2 linked regions of the Homo sapiens genome follow. The protein of the gene in region 2 interacts with the protein of the main gene of each other region in a pairwise test. Each region holds a gene or a part of one and is shown on either strand. Other genes may lie near its edges.

Region 1 (3,500 bases), on a different chromosome or scaffold from region 2:
CAGCTTATGATTTAATGAGTACCTTTATGTCAGAATCTTGATATTGGAGGGCATCCCACACAAGGCAGTTAAGTGCTGAGAGATGAATATTAAGCCATCCATGTTGCATACTTTGAAAATTCAAAGTTGGGAATATTTTTGGTTACTTGCCTTTAATCTGATGGTATGCTATTAGCAGGGTAAATTTAGTGATAGATTTAATTTCTTGGCTCATAACTAAACTTTTATTTTGTATCTTTTCCCCTTCCTCTGAAGGTAATTTTGTGTATTTTGAGTTTAAGAATAGTTTCTTAATTGGTTCTTAAACTGTACTCTGTTCTCTTTATATGGCGACAGAATCTGTTGCATGTCATTTATGTTGCTGTACTCCTGTTGAAATGTTACTTAAATAAATGCCTTTATTCTTGACTAATTTTTAATATACTCAGAACACAGAATTATTAGCTGAAGTACTAAAGTTGGCTTCAGTACTGGCTCTTCCTTCTAGCTACTAACATCTATGAGTGTAGTAAAAGGAAAATAGCATAACCTTCTGTCATTTCAGGCACTTGTTGAGCAAATATGTTTTAAATAAAGCAATTGTGATGTGTATCAGCAGCAACAAGAAATAATGAAAGATAAAGCAAATAGAAAAGCTATTTTAATTTTACAAAAGTAGAAGAAAGAACTAAAAAAGTGTTGCATATATACCTTAATAGGTCTAGAGACATTACTGAATTGTGACATAGTATTATGTTATAACTAATACTCACTAATTATTAAAATGATAATCTGTTTAAAGAGGATAGCAAAATAAAGATTTATCTCTCTGGGAAAGTTCAAACACTAGAGGAGCTTCATCGCCATACCATATACTTTCCTCTAACTACTATTTCATCTCTTTCCTTTCTTTTAGTGCCATTCTTCAAGTTATATTAACAAAGCTAGGACCATTTCTTCTTCTGTTAGGCCTTCCACTTAATTGGATTTTGATTTCTGCCTTGGTAGCTGCCGCCCTCCTAATTTTTCTCAGTGAAATGACATTGATGATCATGTTATTAAATCCGGGGACATCTTTTCTTTGTCTTATCTATTCTTCCATACTTGGATGACCTCTTAATAACAGTTCTTCCCTCTTGAGACTCCCCTTAGCTGTTGGGTTACTGCATTCTCCATCTTCCCTTCTTTTTTGGCCTTTCTCATTCTATTTCTTGTGGAAAAATAGGGATAGGCCTCCTCCACGTGCTTTTTTTTCTTAAACATAAGATTTTTGAAGAGAAAAATCTGTTTTAGAGTGAACTAGATTTTTTTTGCATTAAACACTGACATAGTTTCCTTGCAGATTTTATTTCAGATTAAAATAAAAATCTGTGGTTGATATTTTCCTCCCCTTGTTCATTGGATCTTTAAGGTAAATAAAATAAACATAAACTGATGCTAATGAGGATAATTACATTAGACTAGAATTTGAGACTTCCTTCTATTTTTGCTGTAGGTTAGTATTGATAGAATTGGCATGATTTAGTCAATTTACTGTTAATTTGTTGTCACTGTTTATTGTGTTCAGTTAAAATTCTTTATCATCTCAATCCATTTATATTTAGCTGTTACTTATGTACTTGGCTTCTCTTTGTGGAGCTTCTTAGTTCTATTCACTAGTGTGCAAGTTGCAGATTTTTCTTTTCAGAGTTGAGGAAGACCAAAGATGAAGTAGATTTTGGAAGGAGGTGTATAGGAGGAAGATCATTTTTCAAATGAGTACTGTTGTCCAAGTTAGATGTGTAAGTCTGGATTTCAGATCAGAGACTTGACTTGTATTAGAAAAATATAGTAGGTAGCATGTAGCTATTAGGTGACAAGATGAAATCACCTCAGAGTAAGTATACATGGAGAAAAGATCCAAGAATTGTGCTTTTGGCATTTCAGTGTTTAGGGTTGGGGAGATAAGGAAGAACCAACAAAGGAGCTGAGAAAGAGCAGCCCCTGAGGTAGGAAGAAAATGGAGAGATTTTGGTGTTTCAGAGATTTTGGTGTTTCAGAAGCCAAGTAAAAACACTGTTTTGAGGAGGGAATAAGGTAACCGTTTACTATATCAAATGCTGCTGTGTGTGCTCATAAGATGGAAGAGAAGTATTTAACAATCTGGAGATCATTGGTGACTTTTACCAAGGGGCAGTTTTGGTGAATGGTGGAGTGGAAAACCTGATTTGGGTTTCAGAGAGAATGGGAGGGGAAGAATTGGAGATAATACAATGGGACTTTCCCCGCTAGGTTTTGCTTTTAAAGAGAGCACAAAAATTCACATAGGAGATATTATTTGCCATTCTGTATTGGTTAAATAAAACTAATACAAAATGTCTGGAAAAGTCACATTACCAGTCATGCCTTATTTTTCTGATAGATCTTGTTAGGTTGAGAATCTTTATATGTTTATTGGCCTTTTATAGTTCCTTATCTGTGAATTGCCTGTTCATCTCCTTTGCCCATTTTTCTAATGGATATTGTCTTTAATTTGTCTGTAGGAATTTCTTGTTTTGTTACAAATATTTTCATGGAGCCAGTAATCTAAATCAGTGAATGGGGTAGACTGGCCTGTGAGCCCTGTTTTTGTAAATAAAGTTTTATTTACATAAACATAGCTATGGTAATTTGTTTACATGTCACATAGCACTTATTGCACTTATTTGTTTACATGTCACATAGCACTTATTGCTGATTCCTGCAACAAGGACAGAATTAAGAGGTTGTGTCAGACAGAGGTCATGTGGCCCACAAGATTGAAAATATCTATTTTTTGGCCGCTTACAAAAAAGATTTGCCAATCTCTTATCTAAGGCAATGGTTTTTGTCCTCCATTTTTCCTTAGAATAAAGTTCTATAAAGTATAATTCTGAAATGGGAAACTAAGTCCCCTAATGTAAATTCTATTTTGTAATCCTTTAAAAACACAGTTTTCTACCTTTACTTAATGGAACCTTATTAAAGATAGTAGTCATCTGATAGTATTAAACATGTAATTTGTCTCAGCTATTTCTCAAAGTGTTTGGGATTACCAAAATTATGAGATCTGGTATCTGCCCTTAATGAGCTTACTGTCTAGTCTGCTTGAAAGGAAAGAATATGGAACTATGAAAACTTGCCAAATTGTGATAAGGCTATAGCCTTATCCTCAAGAAAATCAAAGGAATTATAACAGAAACTTATCTGTAAGTAAGGACAGATTCTAAAAAAAACATTCTTTTTTTTTTTTTTGAGATGGCGTCTCGCTCTGTCACCCAGGCTGGAGTGCAGTGGTGCGATATCGGCTCACTGCAAGCTCCGCCTCCCGGGTTCAAGCGACTCTCCTGTCTCAGCCTCCCGAGTAGCTGGGACTACAGGCATGTACCACTACATACAGCTAATTTTTTATATTTTTAGTAGAGACAGGGTTTCACCATGTTAGCCAGGATGGTCTCGATCTCCTGACCTTGTGATCCGCCCGCCTCGGCCTCCCAAAGTGCTGGGATTATAGGTGTGAGCCA
Region 2 (3,500 bases):
AGACCCTGTCTCTATTTTTAAGCCTGTAATGCCAGCACTTCGGGAGGCCAAGGTGGGCGGATCGCTTGAGCTCAGGGGTTCAAAACCAGCCTGGGCTTCATGGCAAAACCCCATCTCTACAAAAAATACTAAAATTAGCTGGGTGTAGTGGTATGCACCTGTGGTCCCACCTATTCGGGAGGGGACTGAGATGGGAGGATTGCTTTTTATTTATTTATTTATTTTGGAGACAGAGTCTTGCTCTGTCACCCAGGCTGGAGTGCCATGGCACGACCTTGGCTCCTTGCAACCTCTGCCTCCTGGGTTCCAGCGATTCTTTTCAAGTATTTTCTTTCTTTCCTTTTTTTTTTTTTTTTTTTTTTTTTGAGACAGAGTCTTGCACTGTTGCCCAGGCTGGAGTGCAGTGGCGCAGTCTCGGCTCACTGCAAGCTCCGCCTCCCAGGTTCACGCCATTCTCCTGCCTCCGCCTCTCGAGTAGCTGGGACTACAGGTGCCCGCCACCACGCCCGGCTAATTTTTTGAACTTTTAGTAGAGATGGGGTTTCACCGTGTTAGCCAGGATGGTCTCGATCTCCTGACCTCGTGATCCATCTGCCTAGGCCTCCCAAAGTGCTGGGATTACAGGCGTGAGCCACCACGCCCAGCCCAAATATTTTCAATCCACATGGTTGAGTCCATGGATGGAGAACCCATAGAAAAGGGGGGCTGCCTGTACACATGAGGTGTTAGAAGGTGATAAATGCTAAGGACAGAGAGCAGGAAACTGAAAGTGTGGGGATTGCTATGCAAAACTGATATATCAGGGAAGGCTTCACCGAGAAGGTGTCCTTTAAACAGACGTGAAACGGAGCTATGCGAGCATTGGGAAGAGCATACCAGGCAGAGGGAACTGCCACTGCGAGGGCCCCTGGGCGGGACTGTGCTCGGTAAGCCTTTGGCAATCCACGCCCAGACTAGGAGCCTGCACCCCTAACCAATGGACCACCCTGTCTGTTTGCCCCTCCCCGGGGCCTTCTCCTGGTGGGTGGGGCCCCCGCAGGTGTGATTCGCTCACTGCACAGCCTGGGCCGCCTGGAGCATGCCTTCTGCACAGAGACCCGGCCCTACAACCAGGGAGCCCGGCTGACGGCCTTTGAGCTGGTCTATGAGCAGATCCCCGCCACCCTTATCACCGACAGCATGGTGGCTGCTGCCATGGCCCATAGGGGCGTGTCAGGTAAGCAGACGGTAAGCCCTGGGGGCGGGGCTCTGGAGCATGGGGCCAGGTAATGACCCCCAACTTCTCATACGCCCCCTCCCCAGCTGTGGTCGTGGGAGCTGACCGCGTGGTTGCCAACGGCGACACAGCCAACAAGGTGGGCACCTACCAGCTGGCCATTGTCGCCAAGCACCATGGCATTCCCTTCTACGTGGCTGCCCCCAGCTCTTCATGTGACCTCCGTCTGGAGACCGGCAAGGAGATCATTATTGAAGAGCGACCGGGCCAGGAGCTGACCGATGTTAATGGGGTCCGGATTGCAGCACCTGGTAAGCTGCCCCCTCAGAAAGGGGACACCCCAGCTCCTGGGCACTTCATGGAGGCAGGTGATATGCAGGTCCTTGTCATCCTTCTGGAACATACACAGCTCCTACAAGCCACTTTTTCTTTTTTCTTTTTTTTGAGATGGAGTCTTGCTCTGTCCCTCAGGCTAGAGTGCAGTGGCACGATCTGGGCTCCCTGCAACCTCCACCTCCCGGGCTCAAGCAGTTCTCCTGCCTCAGCCCCCCAAGTAGCTGGGACTATAGGTGGGTGCCACCACGCCTGGCTAATTTTTGTATTTTTAGTAGAGATGAGGTTTCAACATGTGGACCAGGCTATTTATTAACTACTGACCTCAAGCAATCAGCCTGCCTCTGCCTCCCAAAGCGCTAGGATTACAGGTGTGAGCCACAGCACGCCTGGCCCAAGCCACTTCTTCTAACAGGTGCATCCTGGAGGTCAGATCCAATGTTGGAATTTACAACTAACCGGTTATATGAATGATCTTGAGTAACTGTCTTGCTATTCTCCACTTAGGTTTTCTTAAGAGGAAATAAGAATATCTGGCTGGCCACGTGTTTGTAAAGAAAAACCAAGACGGCCAGGCGAGGTGGCTCACACCTGTAATCCCAGCACTTTGGGAGGCCGAGGCGGGCAGATCACAAGGTCAGGAGTTCGAGACCAGCCTGGTCAACATAGTGAAACCCCGTCTCTACTAAAAATACAAAAATTAGCCGGACATGGTGGCACCCGCCTGTAGTCCCAACTACTCAGGAGGCTGAGGGAGGAGAATCACTTGAACCTGAGAGGCGGAGGTTGTGGTGAGCTGAGATTACACCATTGCACTCCAGCCTGGGCAACAGAGTGAGATTCTGTCTCAAAAAAAAAAAAGAAAAGAAAAAGCAAGATATTTCTACACTTATTTTTATTTGTTTATTTTCATAGAGATAGGGTCTCGCTATGTTCCCCAGGCTGGTCTCAAACTCCTGGCCTCAAGCGATCCTCCTGCCTCAGCCTCCCAAAGCACTGAGATTACAGGTGTGAGCTCCCATGCCTAGCTGCAAGACTTTTCTTAGCTGCCTATACTTCCTGGCTGTGCAACCGTTAGCAAGTTCCCTAAATTCTCTAATTCCCTAAGATCCTCACTGGTCCTATCTGTAAAATGGGCTATGGCTAGAACCTGCTGCATAAACCCAAGGGCGGTCAGTGAATTAACCCACAGGACATTTAGATCAATGACTGGCCCTTTAAATAGTTCATGCACTCAGATGCCGTGGCTCACGCCTATAATCCCAACACTTTGGGAGGCGGAGGTGGGCGGATCACTTGAGGTCAGGCGTTCCAGACCAGCCTAGCCAACAGAGCGAAACCACGTCTCTACTAAAAAAATATAAAAATTAGCCAGGCGTGGTGGCACATGCCTGTAGTCCCATCTACTTGGGAAGCTGAGGCATGAGAATTGCTTGAACCTAGGACGCAGAGGTTGCAGTAAGTTGAGACTGCACCACTGCACTCCAGTCTGGGTGACAGAGCGAAACTCCATCTCAAAAATAAAAAAAAAGGCCGAGCGCTGTGGCTCACGCCTGTAATCCCAGCACTTTGGGAAGCCGAGGCGGGCGGATCACCTGAGGTCGGGAGTTCAAGACCAGCCTGACCAACATGGAGAAACCCTGCCTCTACTAAAAATACAAAATTAGCCGGGCGTGGTGGCACATGCCTGTAACCCCAGCTACTCAGGAGGCTGAGGCAGGAGAATTGCTTGAACCCGGGAGGCGGAGGTTGCAATGAGCCAAGATAGCGCCACAGCACTCCAGCCTGGGCAACAAGAGTGAAACTCCATCTCAAAGAAAAAAAAGAAAAAACAGTTCATGAAATATTAGCATGAACCAATATTAGCATTATGGGGCCAGGTAAAATGGCTCACACCTGAAATCCCAGTATTTTGGGAGGCTGAGGTGGGAGGATCACTTGAGCTCAGGAG

What was found.
Region 1: the proteins of MRI1 (region 2) and ATF7IP interact in a two-hybrid assay, tested with the Homo sapiens proteins (one large-scale study listed by IntAct).

What each region holds. Positions count from the first base shown.
Region 1 is NC_000012.12:14,428,182-14,431,681, forward strand, and holds part of ATF7IP (activating transcription factor 7-interacting protein 1), read left to right. Parts: intron 1-3,500. UniProt on the Homo sapiens protein: Recruiter that couples transcriptional factors to general transcription apparatus and thereby modulates transcription regulation and chromatin formation. Can both act as an activator or a repressor depending on the context.
Region 2 is NC_000019.10:13,767,522-13,771,021, forward strand, and holds part of MRI1 (methylthioribose-1-phosphate isomerase), read left to right. Parts: intron 1-837; coding exon of another isoform or gene 838-926; exon of another isoform or gene 927-1,039; coding exon 1,040-1,216; intron 1,217-1,302; coding exon 1,303-1,527; intron 1,528-2,056; coding exon of another isoform or gene 2,057-2,076; exon of another isoform or gene 2,077-3,500.